3 linked regions of the Homo sapiens genome follow. The protein of the gene in region 2 interacts with the protein of the main gene of each other region in a pairwise test. Each region holds a gene or a part of one and is shown on either strand. Other genes may lie near its edges.

The links. The genes of interacting proteins can lie anywhere in the genome.
Region 1: the proteins of YOD1 (region 2) and PLSCR4 interact in binary tests that used the Homo sapiens proteins (3 or more experiments, as listed by UniProt).
Region 3: the proteins of YOD1 (region 2) and ZFP57 interact in binary tests that used the Homo sapiens proteins (3 or more experiments, as listed by UniProt).

Annotation. Positions count from the first base shown.
Region 1 is NC_000003.12:146,248,095-146,254,958, forward strand, and holds the start of PLSCR4 (phospholipid scramblase 4), read right to left. Parts: upstream 3,012-6,864; 5' UTR 2,866-3,011; intron 2,544-2,865; exon of another isoform or gene 2,463-2,543; intron 1-2,462. UniProt on the Homo sapiens protein: Catalyzes metal ion-induced ATP-independent rapid bidirectional and non-specific movement of phospholipids (lipid scrambling or lipid flip-flop) between the inner and outer leaflet of the plasma membrane and participates in the redistribution of phospholipids between membrane leaflets.
Region 2 is NC_000001.11:207,048,209-207,055,838, forward strand, and holds the start of YOD1 (ubiquitin thioesterase OTU1), read right to left. Parts: upstream 3,001-7,630; 5' UTR 2,823-3,000; coding exon 2,480-2,822; intron 1,516-2,479; coding exon 812-1,515; 3' UTR 1-811. Other genes in the region: PFKFB2 (6-phosphofructo-2-kinase/fructose-2,6-bisphosphatase 2), read left to right, coding at 6,510-6,594. UniProt on the Homo sapiens protein: Hydrolase that can remove conjugated ubiquitin from proteins and participates in endoplasmic reticulum-associated degradation (ERAD) for misfolded lumenal proteins.
Region 3 is NC_000006.12:29,678,142-29,685,420, forward strand, and holds the start of ZFP57 (zinc finger protein 57 homolog), read right to left. Parts: upstream 3,012-7,279; 5' UTR 2,921-3,011; intron 1-2,920. UniProt on the Homo sapiens protein: Transcription regulator required to maintain maternal and paternal gene imprinting, a process by which gene expression is restricted in a parent of origin-specific manner by epigenetic modification of genomic DNA and chromatin, including DNA methylation.

The DNA of each region.
Region 1 (6,864 bases), on a different chromosome or scaffold from region 2:
ACTGGTTGTGAAATCCCTCAAGCAAAATTCTTCACTGCTGTTCTTGCAATAAACATCATAAACATCAATATTAAGGAAGGGGATTTTAAAGGAAGCAGCTGAAAGAGGACACTTATAAAAGAAAAAAAATGAGACAATATGAAAGGTTTTGTGAAATATATTTCTTCTGTAGTAAATGACAGCTAATATATTCAAGAAGGCAATGTTCTGTATAAATTACTATCACTATCAATTTTTCCTTATACACACGCATACATTATAGAAATGTGTAAAACAACATCACTACTCATAATAATATAATTCGGCTGTGTGTAAAACATCACTACTCACAATATAATTCAGCCTATATTCCAAATTATTTACAAAAATATAATTACTACACTACACACACACAGACACACACACACACACACAGTGTTTCAACTTGTTGTTTCATTTTGTGTTTTAACTTTATGTTTTGGACATATTTCCAAGTTAGAACATTTAGAGCTACAATGTTTTAAACTGTATATTATTCCACCTTTGAATATACCATACATTATGTAACCAATTCCCAATCAATGGCTACAGAGCTGTATCCATGTTTTCTACATTGTAAACAATCCTACTTTAAACATCTTTGACAGAGATTTTTATTTGTACACTTGGGAGCATGTTTTGCTGGATAAATTCCAGTTAAGTAAATGAACATTTGTAAATCTGAACAGCTTTAACCCTAAAACAGCTTCACCAATTCACATTTCCACTAAAAGTTTGTAAAATTATATTTTCCTCACTGCATTTTCAACAACACCTAAAGTTATCAGACTTTCAAAATTTGTAAAATTAATGCAAAAATTGATGTCTTACTTCATATATGTTTTGGATAATTAGTGTGGCTAACAGTATTCACTCTGCTTATTATTTGCATTTCTTTTGCTTTGAGTTGACTCTTTTTATCCTTAACTGGGTCATTGATTTTGAAGGTCATTAATAAGATTTCTAGGTATATTAGCAAAATTATCTTTTTTTTTCTATTAACAATGTCCGCAGTTTGTATCTTTTTTGGGGGATGCAAATGTTAATAAAAATCATGTCCCTAAATGGGTCTAGGTTTTTGTATTATGCTTAGAAATGCTTTTCCCACATGCAATGTGCACAAATATCTATTCAGGCTTTCTTTTTCCCTTTTTAGGCTGCATATGTTTAGATTTAAACTAGTAAGCCATCTAGACTACATTTGTCTATTAACAGTGAGGAAAAGTTCCAGTTTTATTATTAGGTTTCCCAAACAAATTCCTGCTTGTCCAAGTACATTCAATTAAATGTTATTTCTTCTTCCCACCCAGTGATTTAAAATGTATGCTTATCAAATGCCAGCTTTCCTTTTATTCTTCCATGTCTCTTCAGTTTCATTTACACATCTGGTAGTAGGTCTACTGCACTGTCTTTTAATCACCACAGTTTTGTAACACCTTTTATTATATGAAGAAGTCTCCACTATATATATGTGTGTATGTATAATATTAAATGTTAAAATCATATATAATATATAAAATAAGACATAATTATATATTTTGTATTTTATTATTTGTAATATATTATACATAACGTTAATATGTTTGTTCTTCCACATGAGCTAAACAGTACAGTTAAAAACAGTAACAAAAATATTCAGTTAGGATTCTACTTATACGTTGTTTTAGAGAAATGATATCTTTACCTAGAAGAATGTTATGTATTTTATTGGATTCTCATACATACCTTTTTATATCTTCTTAAAAATAATTTCTCAATTGTGTGTTATTTCATGCCAAACTGAATTTTACTTTATTTTACTGTATTATCTAGTTTATGTATAAACATCAACTGACTTCTATAAATTAAGTATGATGCAATTGGAAACTTTGATAAATTCACTTATGCTTCCCATCAAATTTCAGTGTTTCCTATGGACATTAAGGTATACACTCACATCATGCATAAAGTGATAATATGTTCCCCTACCTGTTGTCACTCGCCCATAGAATTCACAACCATGTCACAGAGTGTAATGATTAGCATTCTTGTCTTTTTCAAATTTAATGGAAATGCTGCTAGTATTTCACAGCTATCCATGAGAGCAGATAGACAGATGGAGGTTGTGTTCTATTACTATTACAGGAGAATGCAATTTAAATTAGGCAATCTATTCCCCTTTAAGCAGTATCAAGTTTGGTGCATTATATCTTCACAAGTACTTATTTTGGTGGCTCCATTCTAAATGCAGTATAAAATTAAAAACTAAATTGTAGATCCTAAGAGAAGATAAGGCCACAAAATAAAATCCTAAGTCTTTAAATATGAACGTTTTTAAAAACAAATCAAGCACAGCCCCAAATCGCCCCAGTTTGCCAGAATTGGAAATAAGAGAGAGGGATTCTCTCCTGTCACCGCCTCCACTCGCTGAGCAATTAAAAAGTTACTATAAATAGCGTTTTTACCTGCGAGTGGCCTGGCCTGAGTCCGTGAGAGCCGCGCCGTAGAAACGCCAGAGACCCATGAGAAACCCAATCAAGCGAGACCTGTCACGCAGAGCGAAACGAAAGGGCCGCCCCCGTGAAGTGCAGCCAGGACCCCCATCCCTGGGCAGGAAACTGCTCGCTCCCAAACCCTCTGCGTCTGCAGTGCAGACGCGCGCCCGACACCACGGAACTTCTGCAACCACCTGAGGATGCGACGCGAGCGCAGTGTCCGGGAACTGCTAGCGCAGGACGCCGCGCAACCTCCGCGCCTGCCCGCAGGCACCGCGGCCTCGGGCCTCCCCTGACGACGCCCTCGGCCCCGCAGCCCGGGCGCCCGCGCCACCCTGTCCTGCTCTGCGCCCGCCTGTCCAGCCCCACTCACCGCCTGCCCCGCAGAATGCTGGGCACCGGGGACGCCAGACGCCGGGTCTAGTTGTACTGGCAGAGGAAAGGGAAAGGAAAGGAGGCAGGGAAGGGAGACGGAGAGGATTTTTCAAGTTATAAACAAAGTAAGCGCGCGGAAGGGAGGGCTAGGCGCGGGTTCTGGGGGCGGGTCCGGCACGCCTGGACCCTCCTTCCCCGCGCGCGGCTTCCCCGTCTCGGACCCCGCCCCGCGCTGGGAGAGCCGCCAGCCCGGGGGAGCGTCTTCCTGGAAGAGGTGGGGCACCCTGAAGTCCGCTGAAACCTAAAAGCCGAGGGGGAGGAAGAAATGAAGAAAATAAGTTGTCACTACTCTAATAAGAGGTGAAAGAAAAGATAAAAGCCAGCCCACGGTCACTTCCAATCAGAGGGGCAGGTTGCAGGGCCTGGGAAAGGGAGCTTTGTTCATAGATTACTGCGCCTAGAGAGAAAATGAAGAAACCCCTCTTTCTCAAGAGCCTTTTTTATTTTTTTATTTTTATTTTTGATACGGAGTCTCACTCTGTCGCCCAGGCTGGAGTGCAGTGGCGCGATCTCGGCTCACTGCAAGCTCCGCCTCCCAGGTTCAGGCCATTCTCCTGCCTCAGCCTCCCTAGCAGCTGGGACTACAGGCGCCCGCCACCACGCCCGGCTAATTTTTTGTATTTTTTACTAGAGACGGGGTTTCACCGTGTTAGCCAGGATGGTTTCGATCTCCTGACCTCGTGATCCGCCCGCCTCGGCCTCCAAAAGTGCTGGGATTACAGGCGTGAGCCACTGCACCCGGCCTCAAGAGCCTTTTTGATTTGCATTTGCGCCCACCCCCAGGTCCTTGGCTTGGTGATTTAGCCTTGGCAATGCCGTGCTGGCTGGAAACACTTGGGCATAGGGCCCAGAAATTCTGTTTTCTTTTCCACAGAATTGGGGGAGGCCAATTTGATCTTGGAGGGAAGGCGGGAGAGACGCCAATAAAGGGGAAAGGGAGCAGGTTGCCCATGTTTTCTGACATTGGGAGAAAAATGCCATTTGCTTATTACTGTTAGGCACAAATATTTCTTTCAGACCAATGGGATTCAGTTCTGTGGTGGTGCTTGGAGAGAAGCACAATACACTGACAGGAAGTGGGAGAACTGAAGGTCCTCTGACCTTATAAAGAATCAGAACTGGACAGAAGTAAGCTTGATTAAGCTCTGAGGAGTACTTGGCAGAACCCCATTGTGGGAGAAGGTTGGAAAGGGGAAGGGATGTGGGAGTGGAGTTCTAGAATTTTATATTTTTCTTTGTATGTGTGTTATTTGTTAATATTCATGTGAGAATAGATTAAAAAATTCATACTGTTCTTCTCAGTAATAATTGCACAGAACATTTCTCAGATGCAGACATAGTGTTTTACTGAAAGCATAAAACAAAGAAACTGGTGGTGAAACTAAATTATAATAGCATATGTTACTGTTGGGAGCAAGCCCCCCAAAATCTGGCCATAAACTGGCCCCAAGACTGGCCATAAACAAAATCTCTGCAGCACTGTAACATGTTCATAATGGCCCTAATGCCCAAGCTGGAAGGTTGTGGGTTTACGGGAGTGAGGGTGAGGAACACCTGGCCCGCTCAGGGCGAAAACCGCTTAAAGGCATTGTTAAGCCACAAACAATGAGCATGAGCGGTCTGTGTCTTAAGGGCGTGTTCCTGCTGCAGTTAATCCGGCCCATCCCTTCGTTTCCCTTAAGGGATACTTTTAGTTAATTTAACATCTATAGAAACAATGCTAATGACTGGTTTGCTGTTAATACGTGGGTAAATCTCTGTTCGGGGGTGTCAGCTCTGAAGGCTATGACACCCCTGATTTCCCACTTGACACCTCTATATTTCTGTGTGTGTGTCTTTAATTCCTCTAGCGCCGCTGGGTTAGGGTCTCCCCGACTGAGCTGGTCTCGGCATGTTACCTTTGTTTAAAATTTATGAAAGAGGCCAAGTAATTGAGCTTATGAATGTAAACATCCACAGTGGCCACGTGAAGATACCAAAAATTTCAAGAGCAAAACATGTCTTGTGAAACATATTGCTTTGAGGGATTAAAATAAAATCAAGTATGTCATATACCCCAAATCACAACTTTCGAGGGGAAGAAGAAGAACTCAATTTCCTGTTTTTCTGAAATTTCCTGATCTGATGACTTTCCAACCTGGACATTTCGAGGGATGACAAATTAACTACTTTTTATACTAATCCCATTTTAGTTGCTCTGTTGCTCCAAGTGTATTTCTTCGTGTTATTTCCTTTTCACTGGTTGTTCTTAGGTTACCACAGTCTACTTAGAGTTAATAATGTACCACTTCACATAAAGTTAAGAAATTTATAATTACTTTACAGTTCCTCAATTGTATGTGCAAATGCTATCAGATTTTACATACCCATTAATTATAGACTTTACACAACAAAATGTTTTAAGTTTTGCTTAACTAGTGCATTGTCTTTTACAGAAATTAAAAGAAGAAAATAGCTTTTCTATATTTCCACATATACACAATTTCCTGTGCTCCTCGTTTTTTTTCTTATAGATCTTAATTTCACCTATTATCACTTACCTTCAGGCTAGAGACTTTCCTATAGTAGTTCTTGTTATTTTTGAGACAGTGTCTCACTCTGGTTGCCTAGGCTGGAGTACAGTGGCACAACCTCAGCCCACTGCGGCCTCGACCTCCTGGGCTCAGGTGATTCTTCCACCTCAGCGTCCCAAGTAGCTGAGATTACAGGCACATGCCACCATGCCCAGCTAATTTTTTTTTTTTTTTTTGGAGGGGGGAGACAAGATTTGGCTTTGTTACATGGACTGGTCTAAAACTCCTGGATTCAAGCAGTCTGCCTGCCTTGACCTACCAAAGTGCTGGGATACAGGTGTGAGCCACTATACCTAGTCCCTTTAGTATTTCTTGTAGTGCAGAACAGCTACAGACAAAATCTTTTTAGATTTTTAAATCTAAAAATGTTTTTATTTTGTATGAATTTTGTAATGATATTTTTACTGGTTATAGAATTCTGGGTGTACAGATTTTTTTTATTTTATTCCCCAACAATTTTGACCTCCATTTTTATCTGACAGAATGCATATTGTTGGTTTTAAGAATAACTTTTTATCATTGGTTTTTCTGCAGTTAGTCTATGATGTATGCTTCTTTCTGTATTCTACTGTGGTTTTCTGAGTTTCACAGATACATAAGTAGATATTATTCACAAAATTTGAAAAACTTGCAGTCATTATTTCTTTACTGCACCATACCCATTTCTCTCTCTTCTCCTTCTGGAAATTCAGTTCAATTAATTGTATGTTGGACCATATGATACTGACTCACAGCTCACCAAGACTTTATTTACATTTTTTTGATTTTTTTCTCTTTAAGTTAAATAATTTCTATGGATCCGTCTCAAAAATATGCTGACCCTTATTTCAATCTACTGTTAAGTCCATTACAGTATTAACACTTTTCAGTGCTAGTATTTCTATTTGGTTCATTTGTGCAGCTTCCATGTCTTTTGATGAGATTTCACATCTGTTCATTCACTAAGACCATCATTTTCTTAACTTTTTAACTTATAATAACTGTTTGATAAGGTTTGGATCTGTGTCCCTCCCAAATTTCATGTTGAAATGTAATCCCCAGTGTTAAAGGTGGCCTGTTGGGAGGTGTTTGGATTATAAGGGAGAATCTCCTGTGAATGGCTTAGTGCCATTGCCTTAGTGATGAGTGTGTTCTTGCTCTGGTAGTTCCTGTGAGATCTGGTTATTTAAAAGAGTGTGTCCTCTCCCCTCTCTGTCTCACTCCAGCTCTTGCCATTAATACACCTGCTCCCCGTTTGCTTTCTGCCGTGATTGTAAGCTTCTTGATGCCTCACTAGAGGCAGATGGTATCACTGTGCTTCCTGTGCAGCCTGCAGAACCATTTAAACCTGTACAGCCTGCAGAGCCAATTAAACCTCTTTTCTT
Region 2 (7,630 bases):
CAACGGTCTTTTAAAGCTTCAGGAAGCTGCTCAGGCACCTATTCCCTCATACATTCTACGTTTTATATGCTAGAGATCTTAAACAGGGCACAATCAGTTCCTGTTTTGTGATAACATTCTCAAGGATGAGACTCATCCCTGTAAAAATTGCTTGTGATGTACTTATCAGTGGTTAAGCACACATTTATAATGTCTACCAAATTGCAATATAAAATCAGTTTGGACAATTCTGAGTATCTTCATTTGATGAATCAATTCATAATTTAGAAACTTAACTCATTCAGAGTTTTTAAAAAGACTCAGTTACTGGAGACACTGTGGTAAATGTCCAGTGGACTCACAGGAGGCCTTCCACATTACCCAAAATGTGATGCTTTCTTCTACAAGTTAAAGCTGCTGGGTGCTAGTTTATAATACTCAATCTCAATCGTATGCCCAGTGGACTCACAGGAGGCCTTCCACATTACCCAAAATGTGATGCTTTCTTCTACAAGTTAAAGCTGCTGGGTGCTAGTTTATAATACTCAATCTCAACCTTCAGGTCAGTGTCAGTAGGTGGCAAGGATCACCTATTCTGTCACTCCAGCAGAAAGAGGCATGTATGTACAGTTTACCACTGTAGACACACATCTGTAAACTTGCACACTAATTTTAATCTTAACAAGGAATTTCAGTGTCTTAGTGGTTTTAAGTTAAAAGGATGGTTCAAGCATTGTATCCTTTGTTCTTTAGGGTTACCATAGCTTATTGGAAAACCCAGAGCCTTCTGGATGTGTGAGGTAGTAGGCTTCAACCCTCATTCATGCATAGGTCACACTTCTCCAAAGTTGGTATGGCCTGTCTCCTTGGCATGTTCCCTTGCTTCTGCTTGTCCAGTTAATCCTTTCTGACATACCATGCATCTCAGGGTGAAGCGGTTGACATCAGTAAACTGTCTCCTTCTTCTAGCTTCATCTGCTAATTCCAGTGCTTGTACAAGAACAATATCATCATTAGAGGAGAAAATGGTCAGAGGAGGTGTATCTGGATCAGGGAAGTTACGCTGAAGTGGATCATAGTGGATGCCATCATAAATAAGCAGAACCCTTTTGGTATATCCTGCATCTTCCCCAAAACGATCAATTCTTACTGTCTGTGTATCCACTACACATATTTCACATTGGTAAAACTTGGACAAAATCGATATCTCTATTGCTCCTCCCCAAGTGTCATCCCTTTTGATCCAGTCACAGTACTCTTGATTTGTTTTTCCCAGTATTGCCTCACTATAGAAGTCTGGATCGCTTGCTACAATTTGTGCTATGAGGCGTCTCATCTCAGGGGCACAAGCTGGATTCAAGACTCCTCCTTCGACGACATAGTACACACTAGTAAAGAGGCAAGAGTTGTCTGCTGGGACCACGGTTCTGGTAAGCACAGGCAAAGTTTCCCTGACGTAACTAGAAGCACCACGTTTAGTAAATGCAGGTGAACTTCTGGGCCTGGTTTGGTCTTCTTCAATGATCAGCATGTCACCTGTTAAAAATAAAACAAATCCCGATCTGCAAAGAAATTACAGAAGAAACCGAGTGTTCTCTAGCCAAGTCTGTAAATTACAAACTGAAGGAGTTAAAGCATAAACTGGGGTTACTAAGGAGAATACAGTTTTGCAAGTAAGTTACCAGTAAGAATCTTTGTTCACTGAATTTTCATAAAGATGAAAAAAGAACAAAAAACACTTGAGGTTGCATCCCAATTTAGTGAAGGGGTCTGGAGTAAACAACTTCAAGCTTACCTAAAAAGATACATTTCAAAAACAAAATTTCCTTTCCTTATACAGTATTTTACAGAAGGTGCTCACTACAGAGTAGGCCGCTAGGGGGTTCTCCTTCTCCGGAAACTTATCTACTCTAGAGTGTTTACAACATCCTTGATACAGCAACTGAAAGCTTTTAATTATAAACACTGATGTTCAAGTTTTGATATGGCACAGAAATAACTGCTGCTGGTTAGAAATTGAAAGAGCTTTCAGTGGGTGTTTTAAAAGCTAACTCGAAAATGAGTATGCCTGTCAAACGAAGTATCTACGAAGGGGACTGCAAAAATGAATCAAGAAAAAAAAAATCCTGCACCCTTGAGATCTCATCGGTGATATAGGGAAAAAGAGACATAAGGACAGAGAAAATAGGCCCTACTTTATATTTTTGTGGACGCCGAGGGAAAACAAAATGGGATAGTTTCAAAGCCGACCAGAAAGCGGAATGGGGAAGGGGGTCTTCAAGGCTTTGGGTTCCCTTTCAACCCTGTGTCAAGACAAGGAGTTGCTAGACACTTGCCCTGGCCCCCGTCAGCATTCTCTGTTCTTTGATCTATCCTCGCCCCTGGCCTCAAAGCCCCCCCGCCGACTCACAGCCACCTTGCCTTGACTGGTGTTTTGTTCTCTCTCACGCCCCTCTCCATCCTCCCGGGACTTTCCCTGGCCCCAGCCCTGATTCCTTACCAGATTGGATGGGCAAGTCTTCCAGAATGGTATCCCCATTGCTGAGATCCAGGCACTCGGGAGGGTATCCGACGAGGATTCGCTGACCGCCGGGGGCGATCCCGGTGATGGCGGCAATTTGGCCCTGGAGTTCCCGCACCCGGGTCCGGCTGGACAGCCCCTGCAAAACATGGGTGCCGTCCTTGGCCTTGCAGCGGAGCCGCCACATCGTGTCGGTCCGGCTGCCCACAGGCCAGGCACCCGCGGGGCCAGCTTTGGTCCCGGCAGCCTGTTGGGAGACGCCGCCGGGGAAACCAGGCGCCGGGTGGACTCCAAAATGGCGACCTTTAGCGGGGCCAAACATCGCGAGAAGTTGCGGGTGGTTGCAGTTATCGCGACGCTTCGGTGCGGCTTCTGCCTTAGTACCTTAGCAAGCGCGAACTCTTTTAAAGTGACAACTGATTTTTCCCCCACCCTCAGAACGAAGATGTAAACCTCCGTATTCCTAAAGGACAACGGGTCTTGCTACCTATAGAGCGAGTGAGGTGCCCTCCGCGTGGGTAGCATATATGCTCAAGAAAAGAGGGCGGGGGAAGGAGTTCCTGAATGAAGGTCTGGAGATTGGAATGTGACCTTGCACTTAGTGAGGTCGGAAATTATTAAATTGGGGCTTCCACACTACACCCAGACTACACCAGGAGAAACAGAATCATAGTTCACAACGCAAACGAATGCCAGGAATGGTCAGTGAGTCAAAGGACCAGTCAAAAACAATCACACTTGTGACTAGACTCGTGGCTGCATTAAACATTGACTCATTGGGGTTCCAGGGGCCAAAAGACTGGCCTTTCTGCCTCCCTGGGACTGTGCTTGAAAACGTCTATTTGCCACTTCAGAAAGCACAGTATGAGGTCAGCATCTGGGCCCAGGGCAGCTGCCTCATTCAGGTGGTGGCAGTGTAAGGAGGAGTCGTGTAACGCGTGTCATCAGATTCCAGTTCAGTTCCTGGGCATACAAATATGAAGACTTCATTCCTGCCTTCATTGTAACAAGTATTCATTGCAGTTGGGAGACAGGGTGGGGTGTGAGACACACAGCCACTGAATTTCAAAGCAACGTGATAATGCTAGATTATCTGTACCTTTTCAAACGTGTATGCCTAGAACCCAGGACTGTGCCTCGCAAATAAAAAGTGTTCAACAAATACTGGCTGAATGAATAAAGACAGAGTTGTATAGACATAGAGAGGGCAACTAGAGCACTCTGGGAGTTGTAAAAAGCCTTAAAGAGGAGATAACTGTTTGAACTTTTGGAAGAATTAGTTTAATTCCCAGGCGAAGGAGGAATAAAGACATCCCTGAATTTATATCTCTCTTTTCCAAGAAATCCATACTCATTGTTCTTTATCCAGCCGGGATTCAGACAGCAAGTCCCACTTGCCAAGAGTGGGTTTATCAAGCATCAAACGGGCCCGCTGGGGCAACTATGAAAAGTGTAGTTCACTTGGTGCAAACTCACCTCCACTGTAAAAGACTTTGCTTCTGAATAAATTATATGTAATGTTTCCATCTTTTCACATCTTTCATGACTCAATTTTTTTTTGCTGGTGCAATTTTCCTCCTTGGTTCTTCAAGACGACTGCAACGGATGATACAGCCTGGGTTAGGGGGTAGGTAGGAGGGAAGGTAGGAGTGGTTAGAAGTCCACCGGGGTGGCCGGGCGCAGTGGCTCACACCTGTAATCCCAGCACTTTGGGAGGCCGAGGCGGGTGAATCACCCGAGGTCAGAAGTTCGAGACCAGCCTCATCAATATGGAGAAACCCCGTCTCTACTAAAAATACAAAATTAGCTGGGCGTGGTGGTCCATGCCTTTAATTCTAGATACTGGGAGGCAGGAGAATCGCTTGAACACGGGAGGCAAAAGTTGCGGTGCCAAGGTCGTGCCATTGCACTCCAGCCTGGGCAACAAGAGCAAAACTCCATCTCAAAAAACAAAAACCAAACCAAACCAAAACAAAAAAAACTCCAATGGGGTGTATGGGTGGGTCCAGGGAAGCTTCTGGTTCAACGATGAGAGTGGTTGATTTTCTTAGGTCACAGCGTCTGACCTGTGGAGCCGGGTATGTATACACCCTAAGGCATAATTAGCTCAAGTGTTGTGGTAGTTTATTCTAGCAAAAACATCTTTAAAGCTTACGTTCCCATTTATGGATCTAATGAGGTTCTGCTGGGATTCAGGAATGAGAGCGTTAATCTTTGCAGCATTTTCTCGTCACCCGGCACACCCGCTCTCAAGACGCCTACCGAATAGTCTACTCTCGCGAGAGTCAGAAAAAAGTCAAGCTTTTTATTAACACCGCCCCCAGCCCTATTAGTTACCAAGCAACAGTGCCACCAGGCTCCTCGGCGCTGGGAAACTCAGGAGCTTGTGATCTCTCTGGTTCCGACTTCCAGCCGCCTTCCCGAGCCAGTTAGGCGATTGCGACCCTGCCCCGCCCCCTGGGTCCTGCAGGCGCCCGATTGGTGGATGATTCTCTCCAGGTGAGGACCTACGCGCGAGGGGGCGGGGCCAGACGGGCTCACATGATTTGCCGGCGACTGTAGCGCCGGTCCCGGCCACAAGCTGTCGGCTCGGTTCGGTCGCGTTACAGGGCAGGCGCCGGGGCCAAGGCAGGGAGGGATCTTAGGAGAGATCGTAGGGTGAGCCACAGCTGCGCAGCCCCGGGTAGGGTCTAGCGGGGCGGGATGTGGGGGCTGCGTGCCCCCGGATGAAGTGCGGGGAGAGGTGCTGGTCCCCAGGCATGGCAGGCAGCGCGGACGTTCTGGGACCGGGAGCCACAGTCTGTGTTTGGGTTGGAGGATTTGTGTGGTCAGTAAAGGAATCGTGTAAGGCTCTTGAAGGCGCAGGATCTTCCGTCCTCACCAGCCCCCTGTTGTCTGAATTGGGGGCATGAGCTCAGGACTTTCCCACTCCAGTTTGAATCAGGGCTTACCCCTCTTCCTGAGGTGACCTTGGGGAAGTCATTTACCACCTCAGCGCTCCGGCGTTCTTTAGACTGAGTCCCGGGGGTAACTAGGGAGAGGGTGCGGAGCAGGGCTTGAGAATGCACTAGAGGAGAAATGACGACGTGCTAGGGCTGTCTTGGGGTCCAGTTACTGTTTTTCCTTCAGGGAATATGTTCGAGATTTTCCCACGTCCCTCACTTTTTTCTTTTCTTTCTTTCTTTTTCATTTTTCATTTTTTTTTTTTTTTTTTTTGACAGAGTCTCGCTCTGTCGCTAGGCTGGAGTGCAGTGGCGGGATCTTGGCTCACTGCAACCTCCGCCTCCCGGGTTCAAGCGATTCTCCTGCCTCAGCCTCCCGAGTAGCTGGGACTACAGGCGCGCACCACCAGGCCCGGCTAATTTTTGTATTTTTAGTAGAGACGAGGTTTCACCATGTTGGCCAGGATGGTCTCTATCTCTTGACCTCTTGATCCGCCCGCCTCAGCCTCCCCAAGTGTTGGAATTCCAGGAGTGAGCCACCGTGCCCGGCCTCACTGTTTGCAAAACTGAGTCCTACCGTTAGATTGGAGTTAATTTCCTGGTAATGTACTTCGTCTATACATAACCCACCCCACCCCAACTGCTGCCACTACTCTGCCCAGATTCTTAAAACTAGAATCTGAGGTCATGAAACCTTGAGCAGGACACTTAATTCGATGAATCTCAAATTTTCAATCTGTAAAATGAGAAGAAATAATGGTGGCAAAATCTGCCTAATTACAAGATTATTGTTAGGACTGAAGAAGATAACGTCTGTAAATGTAGACTCGTAAGTCAGAAGATAAATGTAAGGTTCTAGTGCAACTCTTTTTATAGGTGAGGAAACAGAGGGCTAGAGAAGTAGCTGCTAACTGGGAGAAACAGGACTGAACCTGCCTCTTGGCCCAGGGTGTTTTTACTTATACCACACGGATCCAATGCACTGACTTTTTTTAAGTTATGTCTTCTTTCTTCCCCTTCCCTTTTTTACATTCTACTTCTCTGTTTCAGACATCTGAAGAGCTGCCATGTCTGGGGCATCTTCCTCAGAACAGAACAACAACAGCTATGAAACCAAAACCCCAAATCTTCGAATGTCAGAGAAGAAATGTTGTGAGTTCTGGCAGAGAGGAGGGACTGCTCTCTCTCAGCATTTTATCTTGGGAATATAGTTATAATCCTGGACTCTGCTGCTTGGTGGGAGTGATAAATAATTATTTGACATGGAAATTTAATGCAAAGTCTCCAGGGTAGAATGTCCTGTCTAAAACAAGTAGACTTAGTGAAATGTCTGTTCTTGGGGCTTGACTACTGGTGTAGTCCAGCAGTTTCTTACTGCTTTCTTAAACTGAATCTCTGTCTCCTGGGATGTTTGCACACTGGCTTGCTGATGGAAGTTAGAACTAACATTATTGTACACACAATGAGTAAGGCACAGTTGCAGGTGCAGGAATTACTTGGAGCTGGTAATGTTACCAGCTTTATCTGTTGGGCTAAGTTTTGGGAGAGTGCTGCTCATTGTAGAAATTGCAGATGGGAGCCAGTGCTGCTTGGTTTCCTTCCTACAGGCCTGAGGGGAATGAGCCCTGACACTTGGCTTCTCACAGTGTCTTGGGCATCTTACTTTCTCACAGGTTTAGCCTTTGTACTTTGTAAACTATTTTCCCTATAGGTTCATTTTTTTGAGGACAGCTTTCACATGAGCATTTTCATTTCTATGCCTGTCTTTTAGATAGAAACAGCAGGAGGGTTTGCGAGGAGATGAAGCATCATTTCCTGTCCCCAAGCATCTGTATTTCTAAGCATCATAGGCTGCATAGCTTCCCAAAAGATCTGGGACTCTGTTCCCCACATATTTTGGGGAACTTCAAGGAATGCTAACTCTTGCCTCTGCTTCTGGATGGCACCATTCCTGCAGAATCCTGTCAGTCAGTTCTTCTCACTTCAGTGGTTATATATATATATATATATATAGCCAGTTAGTCAAGGAATATATATATCTCAGCAGGTGGAAACAGCCGACCAGCATGAGACCAGGAATTATCTCATGTTCAAAGCTTTTCCCAGAGCCTCGACCTTGATGTCATGCCCTTGTCAGTTTCATGATTGACAATGATAATCTCTCTTCACCTAGCACCCATGGAGCCTG
Region 3 (7,279 bases), on a different chromosome or scaffold from region 2:
TGCCATGAGCCAAGACTGCGCCACTGCACTCCAGCCTGGGACATAGAGCGAGACTCCGTCTCAAAAAAAAATCCAGAGATAAACAATTCCTAAGTTTTAAATTGCTTGACATTCTGAGTAGTGTGATGAAATCTTGTACCTTTTCTCTCTGGCCTGCCCAGGATGTGAATCATCCCTTTGACTAGCATATCCACACTGCAGACAATACCTGCCCATTAGTTCCTTAGTAGCTAGCCATCTCAGTTACCAGGTTGACTACTGTAGTATAGCAGTTGCCTGTGCTCAAGAATGCCTTATTTTACTTAATAATGACCCAAAAGCACAAGAGTAGAGACGCTGGAAATTCAGATATGCAAAGAGAAGCCATAAAATAAAAAGGTAAAAATTCTTGTCTTAAGGAAAGAAAAAATAATCATATGCTGAGGTTGCTAAGATTTACAATATAAATTATTTTGAGAGAGATACCACATTCATACAACTTTTATTACAATATATTGCTGTAATTGTTCTATCTTATTACTAGTTATTGTTGTCAATCTCTTACCATGCCTAATTTGTAAATTAAACTTTATCATTATTATGTATGTATAGAAAAAGAAAACCATAGTGTATACAGGGTTTGGTACTATTCATGGTTTCAAAGTATCCACTGGGGTGGGGCGCGGTGGATCACTTCAGGGCAGGAATTTGAGACCAGCCTGGCCAACATGGTGAAACCCCGTCTCTACTGAAAATACAAAAATTAGCTGGGCGTGGTGGCACGCTGTAGTCCCAGCTGCTCAGGATGCTGAGGCAGAATTACTTGAACCCGTGAGGTGAAGGTTGCAGTGAGCCAAGACTGTGCCACTGTACTCCAGCCTGGGTGACAGAGCGAGATTCTGCCTCAAACAACAACAAAAACAAAGTATCCACTAGAGCTCTTGGAACATATCACCTGTGGATAAGGGGAACCACTGTATATACAGATCTTTGTGAAGAATACTGCTAACAACCCAAGAGCAATCACTTATTCAGGGCTCACAATGAGCCCAGCACTGGAGTTCCCTGCTCATCCTTGGAAATTTCCTGCTCAGATGCAAACATAGCTGAACTCTCACCTTTTCCTGCTGACAGCCACTCACCCACATCTCCCTTACTAGAGATAGAAAGAAAAGAATAAAGACCAAAAAACCCTGTTGACTATTTTTTCCTTTCACTTTTTGAGAAGTGTTAATAGAACTGAAAATACCAGCAAGGAAAAACGCCCTCGAGGAATAGAGTTAATTGGATCTCCAAAATGTTGTCATGAAAGGTGCATTCCTGGGATATGAATTTGATTTCCTTCCTTTCTTCCTCTCTCTTTCTTTCCTCTCTCTCCCTTTCCTTTCCTGTCTTTCAAAACCATTCGCACTCCTTTTATGAGGCATGCAGATCTTGGATTATTCTTCCACTTTCCAGCCAACTGCACTTCAAAACAGCCTTAATAAGGCTGGGCACGGTGGCTCAGCCTGTAATCCCAACACTTGGGGAGGCCGAGGCGGGCGGATCACCTGAGGTCAGGAGTTTGAGACCAGCCTGACCAACATGGACCTCGTCTCTACTAAAAATACAAAATTATCCCGGCGTGGTGGCGCATGCCTGTAATCGTAGCTACTAGGGAGGCTGAGGCAGGAGAATCGCTTGAACCCGGGAGGCAGAGGTTGCGGTGAGCGGAGATCGCGCCATTGCACTCCAGCCAGGGAAATGAGAGTGAAACTCCGTCTCAAAAACAAACAAACAAACAAACAAACAAAAAAAAACGCCTTAGTAACAGTGCCCTCAAGAACCTGGCCTTCCAGTTCTCTGGCAGAGAAGACCTACTGCTGCCGCTAGTCCTCAAGATGGCATTTGCTGGAGGCGGTAGGCAGAGGCCCTAAGTGTGGATTCTAACCCCCGTGGGGACTGAATCTCTGCGGCTGTTGCTTGCCCAGGCACGTTTGCCTCCCATGAACTTCCTTCATCCACAGGGCCCCAAACCTCATGCCGGCGGGAGGAGGAAGGAGACTGGGCATAACTCATCAGACTTTCGACTGTAAGAGCTGGAGGCCGCCTGCGGGCTTATCTGTACCCGGGCCTGTCCCCACCCTTCCAGAATGTAAATCCTCTGAGGGAATGTGTCGTCGCCATCTTTCAGTCCTTTGAGTGCACCCAGTCTCTCTCCAACCCAAAACCCTTTATCCACAGCAATTCTGAGAATGATGAGAATCCCCCTCACCCCTCACACCGCAAACAGTTGCAATGCTTAGTGGGATTCACCCTTGTCGTCACCAACCCTGCTACTCCAGCCACGTGAGTTTTCCGCCTGTCAGCCAAGCAAAATGGCCTTCCTGCAGTCGCACGGCCCTTTGGTCTCTGCTCAGGGCTTCGGGGACCCTTTCCAGCCATTGCCCTGCACCTACCCACCAGATCGCCGCCCTGGTGGGCGCTCCTGGCCCTGTCCTCCGCGCTTAGTTTGTCATTGGGCGCCCAGATCCGGAACCCCAGCCTCGAAGCTTCCGGTGGCCGGGAACAAAGCCGGTTTTGCTCACTGTCGCCTGGCAAAGCAGGCGCTTGTTAGCACCCACTGAATGCGCTTATGTGCTCAGAAACGGTCCCATTGGTTGGGACTACCTTCCCCGATGCCCATCCGCCCAGAATCTTCCTTCTGGGATGCCGACTTTTTCAACACGTGCCAGGAGCCCTTCCTCGGCCCGGAATCCCCAGAGTGCCCACAGTGGACAGGGCACCTGGATACACCCCAGACTAACCCACGTTTCCCCGGAGGACCCCAGAGGTTGGAAGCCCCTCCAAGATTAGGGGCGCAGTGCTCCCCTGGCCTGCGGAAGAGTCAGAGGAGTGGGGACAACATCCAACATCAGCCTCTACTACCGCTAGCGCGACTCCCCGCCGCCGCTCTACTCACCTGACGCGCGCAGTGGACCGCGATTTAGGGGCACAGGGTCTCCCGGGGACCAGCGGCTGGAGCGCTCCGGCCGAGCACCCGCAGTCCCGGCGCCGCGGCCCCACCCCGGCCCCGCCCTCTTCCGCTCCCTCCCAGTCATCAGGCCACCGAGAATGTGCCCCTTGACCCAGATGAGAGGGTGAGCCCGCCAAGGTCAAGCTTCCCATCCTAAGAATCACAGACAGCCCGGCCATGCACCACCACTTCGAGCCTCCGACCAACTGATAGCTGCTGGTCCCAAGTAGCGCTAGGATTTTCGCTTTCCCAGTCTTAATTGACTCTAAAAGAAGAAGAAAAAAAAGCCTGGGCGCGATTGCTCACACCTGTAATTCCGGCACTTTGGGAGGTCGAGGCTGGTGAATTACCTGAAGTCAGGAGTTCAAGACCACCCTGGCCAACATGGCGAAACCTCGTCTCTACTAAAAGTACAAAAATTAGCCAGGCGTGGTGGCGGGCGCCTGTAACCCCAGCTACTCAGGAGGCTGAGGCAGGAGAATCGCTTGAATCCGGGAGGTGGAGGTTGCAGTGAGCCCAGATCACGCCACTGCACTCCAGCCTGGGCAAAAAGAGTGAAACTCCATCTCAAAAAAAAAAAAAAAAAAAAAAAAGAGGAAAGTATTTACGAAAAAAAAAAAAAAAGACCAAAGTATTATGATTAAAACACGCGGCTGAGAGCGGTGGCTCACACCTGTAATCCCAGCACTTTGGGAGGCTGAGGGGGCGGATCACCTGAGGTCAGAAGTTCGACCTCAGCGTGGCCAATATGGCGAAACCTTGTCCCTATTAAAAATACAAAAGTTAGCCGGTGGTGGTGACGCACACCTGTAATCCCAGCTACTTGGGAGACATTGCCGTTACTGGGCAAGTGTTCTTTCAAGAGCATCTTATCTGAATTACTATAGTACTAAAGAATGTCTAGGCTGGGCCCCCGTGGCTCACTCCTGGAATGCTAACACTTTGGGAAGCTGAGGAGGGAGGATTGCTGGAGGCCAGGAGTTCAAGACCAACCTGGGCAACATAGCAAGACCCTTTCTCTAGAAAAAATGAAAACAACTTGGCCAGGTGTTGTGGTACATGCCTTTAGTCCTAGGTGCTTAGGAGGTTGAGGTGGGAGGATTGCTTGAGCTCAGGAGTTTGAGGTTACAGTGAGCTATGATTGCACCACTGCATTCCAGCCTTGGCAATGGAGTGAGGCCCTATTTCTAAACAGAACAAAAAAAAAGAATGCCTGCTGATAAACCTTGTGACAGGACATTCATGAAGGATGAAGAAAAGATTTCTTTTATTTTTTTATTTTTATTTTTTTGAGACAGAGTCTCGCTCTGTTGCCCCGGCTGGAGTGCAGTGGCGCCATCTCAGCTCACTGCAACCTCCAACTCCTGAGTAGCTGGGATTACAGGTGCGTGCCACCATACCCGGTTAATTTTTTTTTTTTTTTTTTTTTTTTTAGTACACACAGGGTTTCACCATGTTGGTCAGGCTGGTCTCAAACTCCTGACCTCATGATCTGCCTGCCTCAGCCTCCCAAAGTGCTGGGATTACAGGCGTGAGCCACCGCGCCCGGCTAGAAAAGATTTCTTTCTTTTTTCTTTTTTTTTTTTAATTATACTGTAAGTTTTAGGGTACATATGCACAACATGCCGGTTAGTTACATATGTATACATGTGCCATGTTGGTGTGCTGCACCCATAACTCATCATTTAACATTAGATATATCTCCTAATGCTATCCCTCCCCACTCCCTAGAAAAGATTTCTTGTGGAGTTTTTAAAAAGTCCTTTGAAACAATTCTTTTCTTTTCCTTTTTTTTTTTTTTCGATACAGAGTTTTGCTCTTGTTGCCCAGGCTAGAGTGCAATGGCATGATCTCGGCTCACCGCAACCTCCGCCTCCCGGGTTCAAGCGATTCTCCTGCCTCAGCCTCCCTAGTAGCTGGGATTACAGGCATGCACCACCATGCTTGGCTAATTTTGTATTTTTAGTAGAGATGGGGTTTCTCCATGTTGGTCAGGCTGTTCTCGAACTCCCAACCTCAGGTGATCCACCCACCTCGGCCTCCCAAAGTGCTGGGATTACAGGCATGAGCTACCACGCCCAACTTAACAATTCTTACTTCAAACATGTAAGCATGACGTTCCTCTCCTTCATGCCTTCCTGGCCTTTTTTTTTTTTTTTTTTTTTTTTGAGACAGAGTCTCGCTTCTTCACCTAGGCTAGCGTGCAATGGTGTGATCTTGGCTCACTGCAACCTCCACCTCCCAGGTTCAAGCAATTCTCGTGCCTCAGCCTCCCCAGTAGCTGGGATTACAACCACATGCCAGCACGTCCGACTAATTTTTGTACTTTTAGTAGAGATGGGGGTTTCACTATGTAGGCCAGGCTGGTCTCGAACTCCTGACCTCAGGTGATCCGCTCGCCTCGGCCTCCCAAAGTGCTGGGATTACAAGCGTAAGCCACCGTGCCTGGCCTGGCCCTATTTTATCTGGGTCTGACAAAAGTTATTTCATCCTAGTATCTGCAATTTTTCCGCAGAAAATTACAGAGACGCACAGTGAATGTGAAAGGAGGGAAATTAACAATAGCTATTGGCAGAGCCAAACAAATCATTACACTTTAGCTGGATCATCTGGGAGTTGAGACCTTGAGGGTATAAGGAGGTAGCATGTCAATGCTTGTTAAGAAAGAATGGCAACAACTGTGCTGCCTTACAGATCAGCACCTTCTGCAGTCTGCGAGCCCAACCTTAGATCCATTTGTAGGCAACAGTAAAAGGTCTCATATTTTCATCGCAGTGAGCCCTGACTGCCATCAGGAAGATTTGGTCCTCTAGGTAAGATTTCCCTGAGACAAAGTACTATGGGAAATCAAGTGCATATTCAGCCTCTTAGTACTCTGGGTTGGTGTTACCGTACTGACGAAGGCGATCCATTGATGAAAAACAAACTGACCTAAAGAAATGTAAATAAATGCTTGCAGTCAGCCCTGTTCCTCTGAAAAATTCCCCTAGCCCTTATGTTGAAACCTGATGAGAACTTTAAAAATGTTAACTTGGTAATGGATGGAATCCTCCTCATTCAAGGTTACCCCTGTGCAAGTCAAGCTCAAGTCAGCCTGAAGGTGCAAACCCCATGGACTCAGCCAGAGCCTATGGCTGTGGGTGCTAGATCCAAGGCCAAAACTGATGGCATCAGCCATCAGGATGTTTCTGCCCAATATAAAGTATTGGGTGGGCTGAGAACACTGAAAGCTTGCCATGCAGAAAGAAACTGAAAGTAAATGCGTGACTTTAATGGAACAGAACTTGTTTCTCCCTCCATGCTCCCAATCCCTTTAGATCCCTTTATCTCACCTCAGCCACTTTAAGACAAAAGGTGATTAGAGGTGTAGAGAAGTTCTAATGGGATACATTCATTTGCAGTAGTCCCCCAAGGTACTGTGATAGGCAGAATTCTAAAGATGCTTTCCCCCTCAAGATTGCTTCCCCTGGTTATTCAGTCAAATACTAATCAAAGTACAGATGCTCTTCAATTTAAAATGGGGTTATGTTTCAATAAAACCATTGTAACTGAAAAATATTTTCAAGTGGAAAATGTATTTAATGCACCTAACCTACTGAATATATTAGCTCAGCCTAGCCTACCTTAAATGTGCTCAGAACACATTTGCCTACAGTTGGGCAAAATCACTTAACACAAATCCCCTTGTATGATAAAGTGTTGACTATCTCATGTAACTGGTTGCATACAGTACAGTATAGAGTACAGTATCAGTTGTTACCATCATAATTGTGTGGCTGATGGGAGCTGCAGCTCACTACTGCTGTCCAGCACCGTCACAGAGTATCATACTCTCTAACCCAGGAAAATATCAAAATTCAAAGTACAGTTTATACTGAATGTGTGTTGCTTTCACATCATCATAAAGTTGAAAAACTGTAAGTTGAGCCATCGTAAATCAGGGACCATCTGCACCACTATGTAGGGATTATGCTGTTGTAATTGAAGTCCCAAGACAATTGACCATAAAACAGGTTATCTGGTTGGGCCTGATCTAACCACATGAACTCCTTAAGGGGCAGAAAAAACAAAGATCAAAGAGAAGTTGGGAAGATTCAAAGCAAAAGAAGTATTCAGTGTACCATGGCTGTGTTTCAAGATGGAGGTGGCCATGAGCAAAAGAATGCAGGTAACTTCCAGAAGCTGAGAGCAACCCTTGGTTGACAGCTAGCAAGGAAACAGGAACCTAATTCCTATAATCACTTCTTCTCCCCTTGTCTTCTTCCCTTTCTTCGTGTGTAAGCGCATTATACTATCTCTGTAAGC